Regions from separate parts of the Homo sapiens genome. Here region 2 is linked to region 1. Evidence: fine-mapped expression QTL. A gene starts in region 1. The other region holds a variant in brackets. All regions are shown on one strand. Distances are from middle to middle.

Region 1 (10,211 bases):
ATGTTGAATATTAGATTTACATTTTAAAATGATCTCAAGTTGTTCAACTAATTGGAATAACCTGTACTTTCTGGTAATCTCAGGGCATAACGAAGACTGCCACAATGCTGACCTCAAAAAGTATTTGTTGAAACAATGAATGAATAAATGAATGAATGGATCAAAACGAACAAGGTAAAATTTATCAAATAAAATTAATTTTTTCAGCTACAGAATAGACTAAACCTGGTTTGATGGCAATTTAGATAAATACCAGACAGGTACATTCATTACAGTTCAGTTTAGGCCAAGAGTCCAATTAACAAGTGTAAAATATCTAACAAAATTAATTTCACTGTCTCTTATCTGTTCCAGTCAGACTACATGCAAAATACAAAATTCCTTCTGGACATTACTTTTTAAAATTGACACTGGCAAACTAGAGTTCAACAACTTTATTCTGATTGGGCAGCCAAAATATTAAGAGGTCTGGCAATCTTGTGAGGAGATATAAATTGAAGTATCTGGGATGCTTAACTTAAAAAAAGAAAACAGGAGGGACATACTTCAGATATTTGGAGGGCTGTCATAGGAAAGATATATTACAGTCAGTCTGTTTATCACTTAAGGAAACCATATGGAAGCTACAGGGAAACAGACCTTGCTTTAGCAGTACAAGGAAGAAATTTCTAAGAGTTACATCTGTCCAAAAACAGATTCATTTACCTTGCTAAAAAGGGAACACTTCATCACCTTAAGGATCCAAGCAAAACTAAATAATCTGCCAGGGGCTTTGCAAAGAAATTATTGCTGTGTTAGGTAGAACACTAACATAGATATCTTGAAGAGCCTTTCTGGGTTTATTACGCTATTTTTTCTATAGCCTCGGAGGGTCTTGCTGCCTCCATCTTCAACAGTACCATAACATTTCTTTTCATTAATGTATCTTCTTCCAATTTAATACCTGATGAGGTCTTTGTTCTAAGTCCCATTGTTCTTAGTTGCTAACGAGGTAGTCCTTCTATGACAGTTAATTTTATGTGTCAGTTTGACTGGGCTAAAGGATGCCCAAATATCTGGTAAAACATTATTTCTGGGTATGTCTGTGAAGGTGTTTACAGAAGAGACTTGTATCTGAATTGGTAGACTGAGTAAAAAAGACGCTCTCACCCATTTGGGTAGGCATTATACCATCCCTTGAGGGCTTGAATGAAACAAAGAGGCAGAGAACAGTGAATTAGCTTTCTGCTTGAGCTGAACAGCCATCTTCTCCTCCTCTCGGACATCAGCACTCCTGGTTCACAGACCTTCAAACTCAGACTGAACTACACCACCAACTTCTATGGTTCTCCAGCTTGCAGATCATGGGACTTCTCAGCCTCCATAATCACATGGGCCAATTACTATAATCTCTCTGTTACTCTGGAGAATGCTGACTGTTCTGTGAAAGGGCCACCATATATGCAAAGTTCCCCCCAAATGCCAGAGGAGCTGAGAAATCAAAGAATGAGGTAGAAAAATCCAGTTTGTCAGTGATGGAGGTAACTTACAGACGGAAGTGTGGTCTTGGGCAGCAGCAAGACAGGTAGATCTCTAAACCTGTTACCTCCCAACCCAGAGCTTATATACTACAGTGAAAGGGTATAAGTGCTCTCTATGCAAGATAATTAAAGGCAATCCTCCAGAACAGGCAACAATGCTATATATTCATCATAGTCTGTAAACTGTGGGATAACATCAAGATTGACATGTTCTTTCTCTAGGGACAGTAAATAAAGTAGGAATCAGGAGGCATTCATGGGACTGAGGATACTCAAAAATCATTATAGCAGATTAGCATTTAAGGTGGAGTCACTTTTGTCTCCACACTAATATGGCTTCTTTATGCTCTTACAATCTGACTTCTATTGCAACCATGGCAGGAAAAAAAGAAACAATCCCCTGTTAAAAGTCACAGCCTGGCTGGGCACGATGGCTCACACCTGTAAAATCAGAACTTAAGGAGGCCAAGGTGGGAGAATCACTTGAGGCCAGGAGTTTGAAACCAGCCTGGGCAACAGAGCAAGATCTCATCTCTATTTTTAAAAATAAATAAATAAATAAATAAAGTAAAAGGCATAGCCTTTTTGCTGTAATAGCCAGTGGTTCTGCATTATTTTCCTTGTCCTTAACTCTGTAGAGTTATTGTTAACTATCCTTCGTCTATAATTTTTTGCTGCTCTAATTACTTTCCTCTTTTTCAGTGGTCTTTTTCCTCTCCTTCTACTCATGAATCATAGTGTTTTCCTAAGGCACTAATATTTGCTATGTTTGGATGTTCACTACCATTTTTGATTATGGGATTAAAATAATTTTTAAATCCTTCATTACAATAGGATAATGTCAGTGACACAATTAACACTATGTCTTGGTAATTTCCCTATGTGACAAACAGTGAATACTGATTTGCTTGACAATACCCAATTGTAGTTACTTAGTTTTATTTTCCTAGTTGAACCAGGAAAAGTATTTCAAAGTTTACAGTTGTATTTTCTTGACAGACAAGGAAAAAATGCTTCAAATTTTATTTTTTTAAAATTTATCATGGAGGAACTTTACCAGATCACACTTGATATGCTATCAGGGTAGCCATCAATTCAAATTATAAATGTGGCAATATTTTATTGCCCTTCATATTTTAAAGTGAGTCTAAGGATAGTGTCACAAATCATGTACAGAGTGCAGCTGAAGACACCATCAATCCTCCCCCATCATCTACATATCAAAATTCAACTTAAGTTTGTAGACACAAACACAACTATTACAATATTTTGTAGAGAATGGAAATTCTATTTCCCAAGTCTACACAAAGCTTGCTCTTCAAAAGAATCTCTCATCTGTTATTAAATAGCCACTTGGGATTCTTACCATTATTCTAGGCATGCACTGTATTGATTAAAGCTCTACTTAATATCAGATATCAGCCAACACTGAAATATCCTCCATTCAAATGCTTATTACCCATTCAAAATAACTGAAAATGTAGTTAGAGTATATGGTTGCTAGGTGGAGATATTTAAGTTATATGATCTCAGAGTCTGAACAAATGTGCATCCCATCAAAGGTCTAGACCAGAGCTGTACAATAAAACTTTCTGTGAAGACGAAGATGTTTTTCTAAACTATCCCATATGATAGCCATGAGGCACATGTGACTACTGAGAATCTGAAATGTGGCTAGTGCAACTGAAGGACCACATTATCAATTGTATTTAATCTTAATTAATTTAAATGTAAATAGCTTTATATGGCTATTGAGTACCATACTGGACGAAACAAGCCTAGTCTCTAGAAAATATAACCATGAATTATTCTTATGGTTTCCTTTCTTAGGAATAAATGTAAATGTTAGTAATATTAACATAGTACTATTTTACCAAAGTATAATGCTGCACCAAAACATTTACACTGACTTACTCACATAAAGGACATTTATAGAATACAGCAGGTACTATGTACTAGTTGTCACGCTAAGTGCTGAGGAACTTTCAGGAGTTCCTTTAGGAGCTCAGGATATTGAGAGATGCAGTAAATAAGTTAATAAACTACAATATAACTTTTCTTGCTATTAGAGGCATCTAAATAAAGAAATGTGGAAACACAACATATACAATAACTGTAGGAGTTTAAAAGGTTTCATTGAAGACTTTAAAGCTGGGATACCATGAAGAAATATGTTACAAAATAATATGCGGGGATGAGGGTCGGGGGCGTGGGGAAGTGGACAGGCAATCCAGTAAAGACATGGGGTCCTGAAAGGGCTTGGCAAGGCTAGGATACAGCAGACTATTCTCCATGTGTTGTGCAGCGGCAGAGATGTGCAGCTCCAGTCTGACTGTGAGAGTCTTACATAGGAAGCAAGAAGTTTGGCTGCCAAGTGATCACATACTGCCCTATACTTCCCCTATTGTTAGAATTTCCACACTTTTATTGTAAGTACTTATCTTTTTAATCTGCTTCATTAGATTTCAAAATTGTTACGGCCAGACCATGTCTTCCTTATCCACCACTGTGCTCCATGGCATCTGATAGAGAATTAATAAATATGTGTTTTAGGAATGAATGTTTCTGCTTGTTTTGAAGCTTGATGCTCTCTGGAACCACACTACCTACCACCTTCCAAACTACCTCTTTGACTTCTGGTGTTTTCCCTCTTGGTCCATAATCAGGTAGCCATTGTCATTTTCTAGCAGTACTTAGTGGAAGGTTTTATGACTGAGTTCCTGTCTTTTAAATAAAGCTGGGGAATTTAATAGACAATTACGTTTATGGCATTGGATTTGAGTTGCCCACAGTAATGTACTTAGATGGAAAAGAAATTGAAATAGCTCCCCTTTACCAACTCTATCAATATATGATTAAAAGGAATATTTTTATTTTTTAGTTTTTAATTTTTGTAGGTACATAGTAGGTGTATATATTTATGGAGTACATGAAATATTTTGATGCAGGCATACAGCATGTAATTATCACATCAGGGTAAATGTGGTATCCATTACCTCAAGCATTTCCTTTGTGTTACAAACAATCCACTTGTACTTTGTTTTTTAAAATGTACAATTGAATTATTATTGACTGTACTTCCGGAAAGGTGTCCCAATCCAGACCCCAAGAGAAGGTTTTTGGATTTCATACAAGAAAGAATTGAAAGCAAATCCATAAAGTGAAGCAAGTTTATAAAGAAAGCAAAGGAAAAAAAAAATGGCTATTCCATAGGCAGAGCAACGGCTTGAGCTGCTGGCCTAAGGATACCTATAGTTATTTCTTGATTACAGCTAAACAAGGGGTGGATTATTCACAAGTTTTCCAAGGAAAGGTGTAGGCAATTCCCAGGGCTGAGAGTTCCTCCCCATTTTAGACCCATATAAGGTAACTTCCAGACGTTGCCATGGCATCTGTACACTGTCATGGCACTGGTGGGGGTGTCTTTTAACATGATAATGAATTATAATTAGCATATAATGAGCAGTGAAGACGACCAGAGGTCACTGTATTCATCATCTTGGTTTCTGGTGGGTTTTGGTTGGCTTCACTACTGCAACCTGTTTTATCGGCAAGGTCTTTATGACTTGTTTTTCCTGCCTGTGGACCTTCTATCTCACTCTGTGACTAACCTCCTGGGAATGCAGCCCAGTAGGTTTCAGCCTTATTTTACCCAGCCCCTATTCAAGATGGAGTTGCTCTAGTTCAAACGCCTCTGACAACTAGTCACCCTGCTGTGCTATCAAATACTTGATATTATTCATTCTTTCTAACTGGAATAATATTTTTTAAATAGTAAAGAGTGAGATACATGAACTCCAAATATCTGAGACAGGTCACAATCAACTCAGAAAGTTTATTTAGCCAAAGTTAAGAACTTGCATCCATGACATGGCACAGATCCTGACAACATGCGCCCAAGGTGGCTGGGGCACAGCTTGGTTTTACACATTTTAGGGAGACATGGGGCAGCAATCAATATATGTAAGATAAACATTGGTCTGATCTGGAAAAGCGGGGCAACTCCAAGTGGGGAGGAAGTTCCAAGTCATAGGTAGATAACAGACAGTTGCATTCTCTTATGAGCCTCTCCAAATGAGGCAATCAGACATGCATTTATCTCAGTGAGCAGAGGGGTGACTTTGAATAGAATGGGAGGCAGGATTCCCTAAGCAGTTCCCAGTATGACTTTTCCCTTTAGCTTAGTGATTTGGGGGTCCCATGATTTATTTTCAATTCATAAGATATAAAAAAGATATAAAAAAGAAAGGTACACCTGAGTAAATATCTACTCAACAGGGAAGCAGGATACATGTTCTCTTTGCTTTCCCTGTTTCCTTGATAGCCATGCACCTTATGTTTATATTCCTCATTATTTGATGAAGTTAATCATTGCAATAAGAGAAATACGAAAGACTCTAGAACTCTAGACACGAAAGCAATTATACAGCCTTTATGACACGCAAATTTATTCACTCTGTAAAAAAAAAGTAATTACTTTCGGTAGGGTCTCCCATGTATCTTCCAAAAGGCAGACTGCTCTGGGTGCATGTAAAAATTAACACGATACCCTATACAAAAGGGAATGCTCAGAGTTAACAGCTAGAGAAGAGAGGCGCCAATCTTAGACACAGGCTTATTCCTCCGCACCCTCCCCCAAAACAAATGGAGGACAGAAGAAAAAAGAAAAGTAGTTAATACAACTATTACTCTACGGAAATATTAGGGGTAGCGCAAACAAAGTTCTGACACTAAACTTTACTGAGCCCTGCATCCTGCCCACGACCCCCCCAGAAACACCTACGCACCACTCTCCTAGCCGCCGCAGCCCCGCCAGTCTCGCCGGGAGGAACCCCCAGCGCCGCGGTACAACCACGGCACTTCCGCCCGCCCCCCGCGCCTCGGGCGCAAGCGTTTGGTGTGTCTGCGTCGGGGGCGGAGCCTCTTGTCCCTCTGCGCGGCCCGTTCCGCCTCTCTTCTCCCACCGCCTGTCGGCTGACGTGTCTGCAGTTCCTCCGCGTCTACTGCGAGTCAGGCCGTGATGGCGGACGCCTGGGAAGAGATTAGGCGGTTGGCGGCCGACTTCCAGCGGGCGCAGTTCGCCGAGGCCACGCAGAGGTGCCCGACCCTCCCTCTCCTTTGTGGAGCCCAAATTAGGCCGTGGGCGGACACGCCTGTATCTGGGACTTTAGACCCGCGGCCCTGCATCCCGGGTCTTCTCGCTGCTTGTCACCATTCTCTCCTCCTCCCTCTGTCCCGAGCCTGGATCGCAGTTCCAAGTCCAAGGCTCGGCGGGAAAGTCCTCAGCCTAGGACGCCCTGGAGCCCCCCAGCCCAGCTGCAGCGAAATGCTGGCGCGCCCCGCCCCACCATGGACGGGGCCGGTGATTTCGAGCTGCCTTTATTGAGCATTTCTTTGACCCTCCCTCACCCACCAACCACCAAATCACTGTGACATCTTGGCTATTATACACTTCCTGATCTAGAATGAGCTCGAAAGGAGAGGCTAACCCCCGCCCCCAGTACAGTACTTGGCAAATAGTATGTTGATCCTTAAAACTTCTTGCCCTTTTATCTCTCGTAACAGACCTAGGGCTAGACCCCTGACCCCATCTGTTATTCAGGGCACTGACATTTTCTACAAGCCCACTAACCTTTGGAGGATGTGTCCAGAGGAGCCTAACTCTGCTTTTTAAAAATAACGCTAATAGAAGCCTTTCTATTCTTTGACTACTTCCTACCTGCGATGTTTTATTCCTTTTGAGCCGGAAGACAGCAATCCCCTTATGCTGTATTTTCTACCACTGATAGCAAACTCGTAACTGCATGGGTAACTAACGTGGGTAAAAGTTATGGTTTCACTAGGCCACATCCCCTGCCTGCTTGCAGACCATGTGTGTAAGTGAGGCAATTATGCACTTAATTTAAAAGAAAATTCTGATTAAACTGGAAATTAGGGCATTTTTTGTTTTGTTTTGTTTTGTTTTTTCTTTTTTCCTACCTAAATAAATGTCTTCAATTTTCCCTTCAGATTTGAAGATTGGAAGCAGGCCTGTAAGAGACAACAGACTTGAAATTTGTGATGGGATGATGTGTACCAATTAAATAAATGATTTAAGCATATGTAAACCTACTTACTCTGAAAGGTTTTTTTTTAACTTATTGAATCAGTTAGTGAAAAATACAGATATTGTGATGTAGAAGTTAGTGACTAAACAAACTTTTTAAAAGCCTGTTTTCATACATTGTATTAATTTTATTGAGCGCCAATGTCTCAAGTGGACTTTTGAAACAACTTTTTTTCTTTCCCTCAGGTTGTCCGAGCGGAACTGCATTGAGATTGTTAATAAATTGATTGCTCAGAAACAGCTAGAAGTAGTTCATACACTCGATGGAAAGGAATATATTACTCCAGCCCAAATTAGTAAAGAAATGAGAGATGAGCTACATGTCCGAGGTGGTAGGTAATTCTTTAGTGTTTTTTTTTTTCTTGGATTTTTGGAAGGGGCAAAACAAACAAACAAAACCCGTAAACATGTAATTGCATACTAAATTATAGATTGTAAGATATCGTTTTCAATTGTTAATTTGATAATCAGGCTTAATATTTTTACTGGGTTCATGCAAACATGGTCATATAATTTAAATGAACTCAAATGTTGTCACTTAAAATATTTTATCATTTTGAGTTATGTGTACTATACATGAATTAATTGTTTCTTTTTACAATTCATTAATTTATTGCATGACTCAGGGAAGGGTATTCAGCTGCCTTTTATTAGGTGGTAATTGTGAAGGGGGACAGTATCTTACAGGATTATAGATTTTTGAAAATCAAGGCTGTATTTCTTTTTAAGGCTTACTTGTACTTACAAATTAGGTAACTCAATCCAGTGTGGTGCTACACCAATCATATTGTATGAAATGCTGTTAAAAACACGCACAAAGTTGGTTTCCTTTGTCTTCTTAAAATTTGAACAGACTACCAAGCATATTTGAATACTATTTGATTAAAATAGAAGCAATTATGAAAGCCTCTCTTCATATTATCAGAGTGTAACATTGGTCTTTGTCTTTTTTTATTTATCTATTTTCCTTCATAGTACCTTTAAAATATGAGCTATAATTTGAATTACTTAACAGATTTTCTTATGCTGATATGTAGAAGCCTACCTTTTAGTATCAAATAATTGAAAAAAAGTTCATCTTAATTTAGTTGTCAATATCTCTTTGATCACAGTAGATAAATTCTGAATTGTGAAGGGAAATGAATACCCTTCATAGATAGAGCCAATTTGTGTGCCAGTTGGTGCTCATAATTGGCCTGATGTTATTTAAAAAAAAAAAAAAAATTGAAAGTAAGTTATTGCTTATGGCTTCAGCCATGAAGACTTAGCCATCAGCTAATGGTGTGTATTTGAAGACATTGATTATTCTGGCTCTCTGTTCTATGCAGGACTTTGACCAAAACTTAAATGTTAGAATTTATAGCTTTGGGTTGGTATGTACGCATAGATCATTTAAAATAAATGAATGTCTTTTCTTCAAAGGTCGAGTAAACATTGTTGATCTACAACAGGTAGGTTTTAAATTTATAAAATTTTTGCTTTACTTTCTCAATTTTTTGATACTGTGAATTTGTTCAAGTATTCACTAATGCTGGTATCATATTTTGTGTAGTGTTTATAAAGAAATAGTTATATAAGCCTCGCTGATACACTGAATTGATTTAACAAGTTCTGATACATTAAAATGATTTAATAAATTCGGATTTATTGAAATGATTTAATAAGTTGGCCTTATTAAAGAGTTGGCCAACTCTTCCCTAGTTGGCTTTCTTATTCTTAACTTTTTACCAAATGAACTCATAGTTATTTTATGTAAGTATAGAGTTTATGTCATTTTGGGAGAAAAGTCACCAGTTTCATGTTTATATGTTTTTAGTATATGAAAGTAATAGAGAAACATTTTTAAAAGTAGAAGCTATTTTCAAAATATACAAATATATATGTCATTACCAAGGTACACTATAAACAAGAAGCCAGCGAATTTTCTGTAAAATGCTATCTGTTATATGAATATGTAATTTACTGCTTTATATAAACTTACTAGCAAGTGACAGTTTAATTCTTCAGAACTGAAAATAACTAAGCAATACACCTCTAATTTTTTATTTGGCCAATGCTTTTCGTATTATTTCAGATTGATTCAAAATTTAAGAATAAGCAATTTCTTTCTTTCTTTTTTTTTTTTTGAGATGGGAGTCTCCCTATGTTGCCCAGGCTGGTCTCAAACTCTTGAACTGAAGGGATCCTCCCGCCTCATCCTCCCAAAGTGCTGGAATCCAGGCATGAGCCACCATGCCTGGCCGGCAATTTCTTTAAAAATATAGTTCTAAGTATATAATTTCAAGCTTAAGAAACAATACAAACTAATCATTAATAGATTTTGTATTTGTTTTCCAGGTAATTAATGTGGACCTGATTCATATTGAAAATAGAATTGGTGACATTATTAAATCAGAAAAGCATGTTCAGTTAGTGTTGGGACAACTGATAGATGAGTAAGTACAATAAAGTACAAATTTAAGAGCACTTTGTTTATTTTCTTTCTTTTTTTTATAGTGTTTAAATTTAGGCCAATTATGGCCAGTTAGACATTTCATTTATAACTCTTACAGTGTTGATTTTCATGATAAGGTTTATTTCACTTA
Region 2 (10,211 bases), 71 kb after region 1:
ATATAAAGGCTGGTTTAATACATACTATTACTTATTCATGATCCACTTGTTTTTTAAAAAACATTGAATCTGTGAGAGGACTTCAAATAGTTCATGGAAAATACACATTATTTAAAAACTAAGCATGTGTTTAAAAATTTTTTACACTGAAATAAACTCATACTAATTTGTTATAACATGTCTGAAAAGGATCTAGTTTGAGGCAACAAGAAGGATAAGACATCAGTTTGAGGAGTCTCTATCAGAGCAACATAAATTCTTCTAAAATTGAAGCATGAGCAAACATCAAATTTACAGTGAAGCTTGGGAGGAAGAAAGGTGAACTAATTTATACTTTATGTAAAGATAATAGGGACAATGCCCCAAAGAAATTAGCAGTTTACAAATGGATAACTTGTCTCAAGAAGGGATGAGATGATGTTAAAATGAAGCCTGCAGCAGCAAACCATTCACATAAATTTGCAAGGAAAAAATTAATCCTTTGTGCCCTAATTGGAGAGGACTGACAATTGACAGCAGAAACAATAGCCAACACCATAGACATCTCAATTGGTTCAGCTTACACAATTCTGACTAAAAAAAAATAAGATGAGCAAACTTAACACTTGTGTGCCAAAACGATTGCACAGATCAGCTGCAGACAAGAGTAGAGCTTTCAATGGAAATTTTAGACAAGTGAGATCAAGATCTTGAAGCATTTATTTGAAGAACTGTGATAAGAGATGAAACACGGCTTTGCCAGTCCGATCCTGAAGACAAAGCACAATCAAAGGAATGGCCTCCAAGAGACGGAAGTGGTCCAGTCAAAGCCAAAGGAGAACATTCAAGAGCAAAGGTCATGGCAACAGCTTTTTGGGATGCTCAGGGCATTTTGCTTGTTGACTTTCTGGAGGGCCAAAGAACAATAACATCTGTTTATTATCAGAGTGTTTGGAGAAAGTTAGCCAAAGCTTTAGCTGAAAAACGCACAAGAAATCTTCACCAGAGAGTTCTTCACAATGCCCCTGCTCATTTCTCTCATCAAACAAGAGCAATTTTGTGAGAATTTCTATGGAAAATTATTAGGCAACCATTTTATGGTCCCGACTTGGTTCCTTCTGACTTCCTTTTGTTTCCTAATCTTAAAAAAGTCCTTAAAGGGCACCTATTTTTCTTCAGTTACTTATGTAAAAAGACTACATTTACATGGTTAAATTCCCAGGATCCTCAGTTCTTTAGGAATGGATTATATGGCTGATATCATCACTTACAAAAGTGTCAAACTTGATGGAGCTTATGTTGAGAAATAAATTTATATTTTTAATTTTTATCTCTTAATTCCACTTCTATTAACTTTTTGAAGTCTCCTTATATAGAAAAGAGTATTCATAACATATACACAAACTGTAAGAAATAACAAATTGGCTTAACAAAGAAAACATCCCCTTTATATTTGAAACCCGTTGTGCAACATCCCAATTTATTTTAATAACTATGAAAATTAGATAATCTTATATTGCATCCTGAATTTTTTGTTAATCATCACTATGCTTTTTAAAAATAAAAGCACATATTCATAATTCCTAATAATAAACTTTGGCTGTTCTAAACTTTATATAAATGTCATTCTGGTATATTTACTCTCTACAACTTGCTTGTTTACTCAATATTGTAAAGTTCTTCTGCATTAAGGAGGGTACCTGTAAGTCATCTGTTTTTGTGGCCATATGACAATATGTTGTGTGACCACACATCTACTTATTTATCCATTTTTCCCTTGATGGACATTCAGACTTTTTTGCTATGGCTAGTATAAACTCCGTGGCTGTGAGCATTGTTCCACATCATCGCTGAAAGTTTCTCTCAAATTTACACACTTAGGGGTGAAATTGTTGAGTCACATGAAAGGTATATGTTCAATTTTACAATGTAATGAAAAATTGTTTTTCAAAGTGATTTTATCCATTCATTTTTGCATACTTATTTTCAACACGTAAGAGTTCCTGTTATTTCTTTCTTTCTTTTTTTTTGAGACGAAGTCTCACTCTATTGCCCAGGCTGGAGTGCAATGGCACAATCTCGGCTCACTGCAACCTCCACCTCCCAGGTTCAAGCAATTCTCCTGCCTCAGCCTCCCAACTGGCTGGGATTACAGGCATGCACCACCATGCCTGGCTAATTTTGTATTTTCAGTAGAGACGGGGTTTCACCATGTTGGTCAGGCTGGTCCTGACCTCAGGTGATCCACCTGCCTCAACCTCCCAAGTGCTGGGATTACAGGCATCAGCCACTGCGCCTGGCCTCCTGTTATTTCTTTGTCCTCACCAACATTTGATATTGTCAGCATTCTTTTCATATTTTGTGAGTATAAATGCAGTTCATTTTGGTTTGTTGAACAGATCTATTTAAATTTCACTGATTAAGAGTAGGTTGTGCTTTCTTTAAAATAAATATTTTCCAGTTACAAAAGAAAATATTTGCTTATTATGAGTGAATTAAAAACAAGCTAATGGAAAAACAGTCTCCATTAGCTTGTTTTTAATTCACTTATTGATTCACAGGAATGTTTTATATATTTTGTTTTCTAACTCTCTTTCAGTTACTTGTGTGGCAAATATCATCTGTTATATTGTGGCTTGTCTTTTCATTCTTTAAATAGTGTCTCTTAATGAGCAATTCTTTTAAAAAAAAAGTAACAACCTTTTCATTTACAGTTTGTGTTTTTCATATTTTTTAAAAAAATTTTCCTAACATATGATCATAAGATCATAGAAATTTACTTCCATATTTTAAAGACTTGCCTTTCATATTGATGATGGAATTGTTTTGAGTATGGTATGAAGTATGGATTCAATTTAATTTTTCCCATGTAAATAACCAATTATTTCTGTATCATTTCTTAAATAATTATTTCCCCCTCTAAACTACCATTTTTGACATATCACATTTTCATATATGCATAGATCTGATTTGATTCTCTCTTCTCCTCCATTGGTCTTTGGTTTATCCTGTTTCAATACTACACTGCCTTAATGATGACAAGTTCTTATATTGTTTACAACAAATTCTTCCACTATATTAAAGTTTCAGATACATCTTGTTACATTTAAGACAAGTACAATTTCCATTGCTTTTGAATATTGTATTTTTTTAACATTGTATTTCTGATGTGTAGGAATTTTGCTGATATTTTTATATTGACCTTGTATCAAGGAACTTGCTAAATTATCTTTCAGTGGTTGTTAATGAAGTTGAGAACATTTTCATGTTTATTAGCCAGCTGGTTATCCTCCTCTGTGTATCTGTTCAAGTCTTTTGTACTTTTATTGGGTGGTCCATTTTTTTTCTTATTGATTCGTAGGACTTCTTCACATGTTTTGGATATGACTTCTTTGTTAATTAATGAATTGCAATACATTCTTTGGCTCTCTCTTTACTCTTATTTGTGTTTTTTGAGAAACAGAAGTTCTTAAGTTTAATTTAGTCTAGTGTATTAAATTTTCTCTACATGGCCAGCATATTTTCTGGCTTATTTCTGAAACCTTTCACATTACAAGTTTATAATGACATTCTCTTATATTCTCAAAGGATTATTGCTTTGTCCTAACACTGAGATCTATGGTTCACCTGGAAATAATCTTTATATGTCATGTGAAGTAGTAATCTAGTTTCATTCTTTTTCATATGGAAATAAATACAATTGACCCAACACCATTTACTAAAAAGACCATTCCTATTCTTCGTTATTCCTCACTGTCCTTTAGGTCATGTGTTATATATGTATAGACTTGCTTTTGAGCTCTCTATTCTGTTCTGGTGATCTAAGTATTTAATCCTGTGTTTATACCATACCATCCACTATAGTAGCTTTATAATGTCTTGATATCTGACTTAGCAAGTCTTCCAATCTTGTTCTTGTTCAAAGGTGATTACACTATTCCTGGCCCTCTGCATTTCTTTATAAGTTATGGAATTAGCTTGTAAAAAAATAACCTGATGGAATTTTATTTTGCATCTATAGGGCAAATGAAGGGGAAATAATACCTTCACAATAGTAAGTCTTCAAGTCTAAGAGCATGGTATTTTCCTTCCATGTATTTATTTTGGTTTTCTGTTTATTCTTTCAAAGTCTTATAATTTTCTATGTAGAGAGCTCATACATTCTTATTAGGTTTCTCAGGGAATTTAAATATCATAAATGATTTTTTTTCATTTCACTGTTTGTTATTGTTAAATAGGAATACAATTGATTTTTATATATAGACATTTTACTGAGCAACTCTAATAACTAACTTGTAAATTCTAATCAGGTATTATAGAATTTTTTTGATTTTCTCCACAATTAGAACATCAGCAAATAATGAGTTTGTTTCCTTTTAACTCTTGTACTTTTTTCCCTCACCTTACTGCAAAATCTATGGCTTCCAGTATAAAGCTGAATAGAAGTGGTGATTGTGGGTATTCTTTTCCTATTTATAATCCGAGTAAAAGCTATCAACATTTACCATTAAGTATAGTGTTCGCTATAGGTTTTTTTAAACCACATTGAAGAAGTTTCTTTCATTTTTAGTTTGTTAAGAGTTTTTAATCATAAATTGAAGTAAGATTTTATCAAATGCCTTTTCTGCAGCTGCTGAGGTAATTTTACAGCTTTCACTTTTACTTGGTAAAATTATTGAAACACAGTGATTCTCTTGAATTTTAAACTGAACTTGGCATTCCTAAAATGAAATCAACTTGATCATGATATACTAATCTCTTCATATATCACTGGATTTAGTTGCTTGTTATTTGGGTTTGGGTTTTGTATTTATTGTCAGAAGTATTATGGACCTATAGTTTTCCTTTCTCATAATGATTTTAGATTTTGATACCAAAGTGTTAATGAGTTCAAAATTTACCAGAGCATGTTCTCTGTTTGTACTTACTTGATTTGGTTTGTGTGAGATTGCTGTTATTTCTTCTTTAAAGCTTGGCAAAATTCACTGGTAAAGCCACTTTGGCTTTATTTCCCTCTGTATGTAGCCTTTTTAATTACAAATTCAACTTATCTAATAGTTGTCATAATTTTTTATTTCTTCTTGTGTCAATTTTAATAGTTTTATTTATTTTAGATTTTTCCATTTTACCTAAATTTTCTAATTCTTTGACACAGGGTTGTTGTACATAGTCAGATTTACATAGATTCATCTACATGTTTACGGTTTTCATTTTTTCCCTACTCTTTTCCGCACCTGTGATCTCCAATGTGTACTTTTGCCCAAAGAACACTGTTTGGTATTATTTTAACGTGGGTGGATGATTAATAAATTTAGTTTCTGATGGCCTGAAAATGCTTTTACCTTCATTGTCAAAAGATCTTTTACCTGGGCATAGACTTCTAGGTTGGCTGCTAATTTTTTTCAGCAATTTGAATATATCTCTCCATTGTCTAGCTTCCTTTTTTTTCTGTTGAGAAGTAGGTATCCTCAATTTGTTATTAATCTGAAAGTAATATTTTATTATCAGGGGAAATTCAGCCAGATATCGGGGGGAAATTCACCCCCGATATTTCATGTAGGTGCTTTTCTATTTTCCCTAAGTGTCAGCCAGTTTGAGAAATAAAGGGACAGAGAACAAAAGAGAGAAATTTTAAAGCTGGGCATCTGGGGGACACATCACATGTCGATAGGTTCCGTGATGTCCCCTGAGCTGTAAAACCAGCAAGTTTTTATTAGGGATTTTCAATGGGGAGGGAGTGTACGAATAGGGTGTGGGTCACAGAGATCAGGTACTTCACAAG[A/G]TAATAGAATATCACAAGGCAAATGGAGGCAGGGCGAGATCACAGGACCATAGGACCGGGGCAAAATTAAAATTGCTAATGAAGTTTCGGGCACCACTGTCATTGATAACATCTTATCAGGAGACAGGGTTTGAGAGCAACCTGTCTGACCAAAATTTATTAGGTGGGAATTTTCTCGTCCTAATAAGCCTGGGAGCACTATGGGAGACTGGGGCTTATTTCATCCCTACAGTCTTGACCATAGAAGATGGCCACACCCAAGGGGGCCATTGTAGAGGCCCACCCTCAGGGGCACATTCTCTTTCTCAGGGATGTTCCTTGCTGAGAAAAAGAATTCAGTGATACTTCTCCCATTTGCTTTTGAAAGAAGAGAAATACGGCTCTGTTCCGCCCAGCTCACTGGCGGTCAGAGTTTAAGGTTATCTCTCTTATTCCCTTGAACATTGCTGTTATCCTGTTCTTATTTCAAGGTGCCCAGATTTCATATTGTTCAAACACACATGCTCTACAATTTGTGCAGTTAATGCAATCATCACAGGGTCCTGAGGCAACATACATCCTCCTCAGCTTACGAGATGACAGGATTAAGAGATTAAAGTGAAAACAGGCATAGGAAATCACAGGGGTATTGACTGGGGAAGTGGTAAGTGTCCAAGAAATCTTCACAATTTATGTTTAGAGATTGCAGTAAAGACAGGCATAAGAAATTATAAAAGTATTAATTTGGGGATCTAATAAATGTCCATGAAATCTTCACAATTTATGTTCTTCCACCATGGCTTCAGCCAGTCCCTCCGTTCAGGGTCCCTGACTTCCCGCAACATTTTATAATCTACTTTTGATATGTTATTTGTCTTTCGTTTTTAGTAGTTGTACCCTGATGTGTCCAAGTGTGTTTTTCAGGTCAGTTGAGGTTCATGTTTTCTTGGTTTTTAAAATTTGGGGCATGTATTTTGTCAGTTTTGGAAGATGGGCCATTGTTTCTTCAAATACAACTTGTATATTTTTCTCTTTTCTCATTCTCATTCTATCATCTATGTTTCTTACTTTCTTAATTGTACTTTTTATACCTTTTATCATCATGCTTAATTTTATTTTCTATTTTATCATCTTTTTCATTTCATACAATCTTTTCTAAAATTTCCCATTATGTCCCTAATTTAAATCATTGTATATTTCTGTACTATAATTTACATTTCATTCTTTTTCATTGTTTTTAATTCTCTGCAAAATTTTTGCTCCTTATTTTATTTACCCCCTTGAACATATTAAGGATAGTTTTATGTTCTGTCTTATAACTCCAAAATCTATGGCTTCCTGCATGTATGTTTCTATTCTTTATATTCCCTTGTCTTCTTCTGAACATGGTCATTTTTGTTTAGTGCTAGACATTGGTGTAGAAGTAATTGAGGCCTAAGATGATGTTTTCTTCCTTCAGACAGGATGTGTATTTATTCTGGTGTTCACCTAGGGATACCAGAATTCCAAGGTTATCTTAATATAATTTTAGAAACTGAGGTAATTCAAAGCTGGGCTTCCATCTCTGAAATACTAGTTTACTTCTAATTTACGTTACTCCAAGGGCATAGCTCTTTGGAAATATCACCTACACAATGATAAGCTTACCAGGCCTGCTACATGGAAGGTCCATTGACCTCAATCTTTGTCCCCTTAGCCTTTCTAGGCTGTCAGAAGTGCCATACAGCTTCTCAGACTATTCATTTTATCTTTTTGGATGTACATATTCTTCTGTGGAAAGCAAATACCAAGCTCATCTACGCTTTTCTCCTTCCTTTGGACTTTGCCTATTCTTCACTGTAATATTAATTCTCTGATGCCTCCAAGCTACACTTTTTAAGTACACTTTTTAAGTACTAGCTTCTCTAGTGGTTCACAGCAGCCTCATGGTTTGAATTATACAGAGTACCATTATTGGACTGGAAGTCTTTCAACAATTTTATTTTGGGGAAAAATTATTTCTATTATCTTCATTTAGTGAATTTTCTCTTTATGCATTAGTTTGTTTCATTTCAAGGTTGCTGATTTTTACTTTTGCTTTTTTCAGTCTGCTGATAATCTTATCCATTGAATTCTCTATTACAAATATTTTTAAACATAAGCCCCCACAGGGACTTTATTATACTTATGTTAAATATTTGGAAGGAAATGAACAGAATGAGTGAATGTATAAATGATTTCAGCAGAAAAATGAAAGAACTGGAAAAGGATCCAATAAATATTAGAATTTATATATATATATATATATATATATATATATATATATATATATATATGTATGTATGTATTTACTTCTTGAGGTGTCTTATAATTTTTTGCCTGCCAAACATTGGAACAAAATACACATGTACAATTTTTGTTTCATTTTGTTTTACCCCCAGAGGATGCACTCCTTTCTTGTCACATGGCTAGGTCAAGGGGCAGAACTTTTAGTTTCTGTCAAGTGTTGTGCTGAGTTACAGTTAACAAAAATATTAAATTAGGCCGACCTCTGGGTTCAAATAGTATTAAAGAAAACTATATTTCCCTTTCATCTAATCTTTGGTTGAAGCTGACAAGAATTTGTTGGGATTTGAACTCAGATTGGTTGCAGATGTTGACAGTTACTTTTGGATCATCTTTGGAATATTTTGGTTTTCAACCAAGAAAGTTTAACCACTCATTTGGTTTGATTTGGGTTTAAAATGTATCATATATCTTCTTCTTTTGTGATGTCTCAGTTTTCTAGTTTTCTTTTTCCTACGTACTTTCTATGAAATAATTTTGTTTTACTTATTTCTATTTCTATGTTTAGAGTTTTCCATTAAAATTTAACAAATCTAATGACTTATTATTAAAATTTTAACATGAGAATGCTTAATCTTAATGTAATTCAGTTAATGTATTCTTTTCCAGCAATACAAGGATTAACAATCAACTCTTTCCTCACTTAAATGCTATTTTCCCCAGTACATTAGTATTATTATGTGTTTTTGAACCCCACAAATTATTATTGTTTTTTCATACAGTCAATGTTTATTTTTGTGTAACTGCATGTTAGTCGAGGTCTTTGCTCCTTATTCTTTCTTTTTGTCTTCAGTTTTCCTAAACCTTCCGTTAGAGAGTTTCCTTTTTTTCTTTCTTTTTTTTCAAACCACATTCTTTAGAATTCCCTTCAGTGAAGGTTTTTTGGTAGTAAACATAGCTTTTGTCAACTTAAATATGTTTTTATGTCATCCTATTCTTTAAATTAAGCTTCACTGAGTATACAGGTCTAGAGTTTACTTATTTTCTCTTAGCATTATTTCAGTTTCTTCTGGTTTCTATTGTTGCTGTTTAGAAGTTATCTGCATATCTAATTGTTGGTGTTTTAGACATTTTTTTTTCTCTTTGAATGTCTTTAAGATCATCTTTGTCTCTGGAATATGACATCTTTACTATGATGTGTTTGTTTTTATGATGCCTGAAATTTGTTTTACTTTCTGCATCTGTATATTAATGTCATTAATTCTTGGAAATTCAATTCTATCTCCAACCTTTGCATATTTCTCATTTTCTCTATTATCTTCTTTTGAAATTCTGTAAAGACTTAGGTCAAATTCTTTTACTCTATCTTCTACTTTCTTTTTAACTGATATATTTTCTATCTCTTTTTCTTTCTTCATTGTATTTTATAGTATATCTTTAGTTCTATTTCCAAGTTTATTAATTTTCCCTTCAACTGATTCTAATCTGCATTTTAATCTGTTTTAATTTTAATGATAAGTTTTTATCTCTTTTATTTCTATCAGTTCTGTTGCAAATCTGCCTAGTCATTTTTATTCTCCTGAATTTTTCTATATAATGCTCTCTGTTATGTCTTTAAATATGTTAAACATTATTTTCCATTTTGTATCTGTTATTTCTCATGTGAAATTGTTTTGTTGGTGATCCAAGTATTTTCTTTGCTGGATTTTTACTTATACTGCTTGTTTTCATTGCTTATTCTTATTTTAAATATTTTAATTGTGAATTCATGCTCAATGAAAATTTATATGTATGATTTTTTTTAGGCCTAGGATGATGGGACATTCTTTCATAGAGGATTTTCTTGTGTTTCATTTTAAACTAAGCCTTTTAAACTAAAACCTAAGAGTTTTAGACCTTACAGTTAGTATAAGTTCAGGCTGTAAATACTTGGATAACAAGGTCATCATGGCTCAGAAGACATCCTCAGGACAAATGGCTCCTTTAGAGAGTGTTAACCTTTCTAGTTTCCTGCTTTCTTTTTAGTTTTAGCCTCTGAGATTTTCCCTTACTTTCTTGCCAGTTCGGCAACACATTTTATTTTGTTCGTTTTTTATTCCTTAGGCGTGTGTTTTTGAACATGCAATTTTCTAAGCTGTCAGCAATGAGCATCTTGTCACTCACATTTTAACTCTGAAATCTGACATCAGACAATTTAGTGTCTCCA

Evidence for each region. PIP is the estimated chance that this variant, and not a neighbour inherited with it, causes the effect.
Region 2: its variant is fine-mapped to the expression of UFL1 in whole blood (INTERVAL, PIP 0.95).

The regions. Positions count from the first base shown.
Region 1 is chr6:96,515,334-96,525,544 of GRCh38, forward strand. It overlaps UFL1 (UFM1 specific ligase 1), which reads left to right and starts at 6,473. Exons shown (of 19, transcript NM_015323.5): 1 at 6,473-6,617; 2 at 7,813-7,958; 3 at 9,049-9,077; 4 at 9,964-10,061. The coding sequence starts at 6,541. UFL1-AS1 (UFL1 antisense RNA 1) reads right to left here and starts at 6,381. Exons shown (of 4, transcript XR_007059687.1): 1 at 1-6,381. RefSeq lists enhancers at 4,316-5,189, 5,190-6,061, 6,062-6,933, 6,078-6,267, 6,934-7,805.
Region 2 is chr6:96,586,220-96,596,430 of GRCh38, forward strand. The region is part of intron 1 of FHL5 (four and a half LIM domains 5); the gene reads left to right. Among named protein-coding and RNA genes, the nearest start is that of FHL5, 28 kb to the left of the region's middle. The variant A/G (reference allele first, on the strand shown) is at 5,762.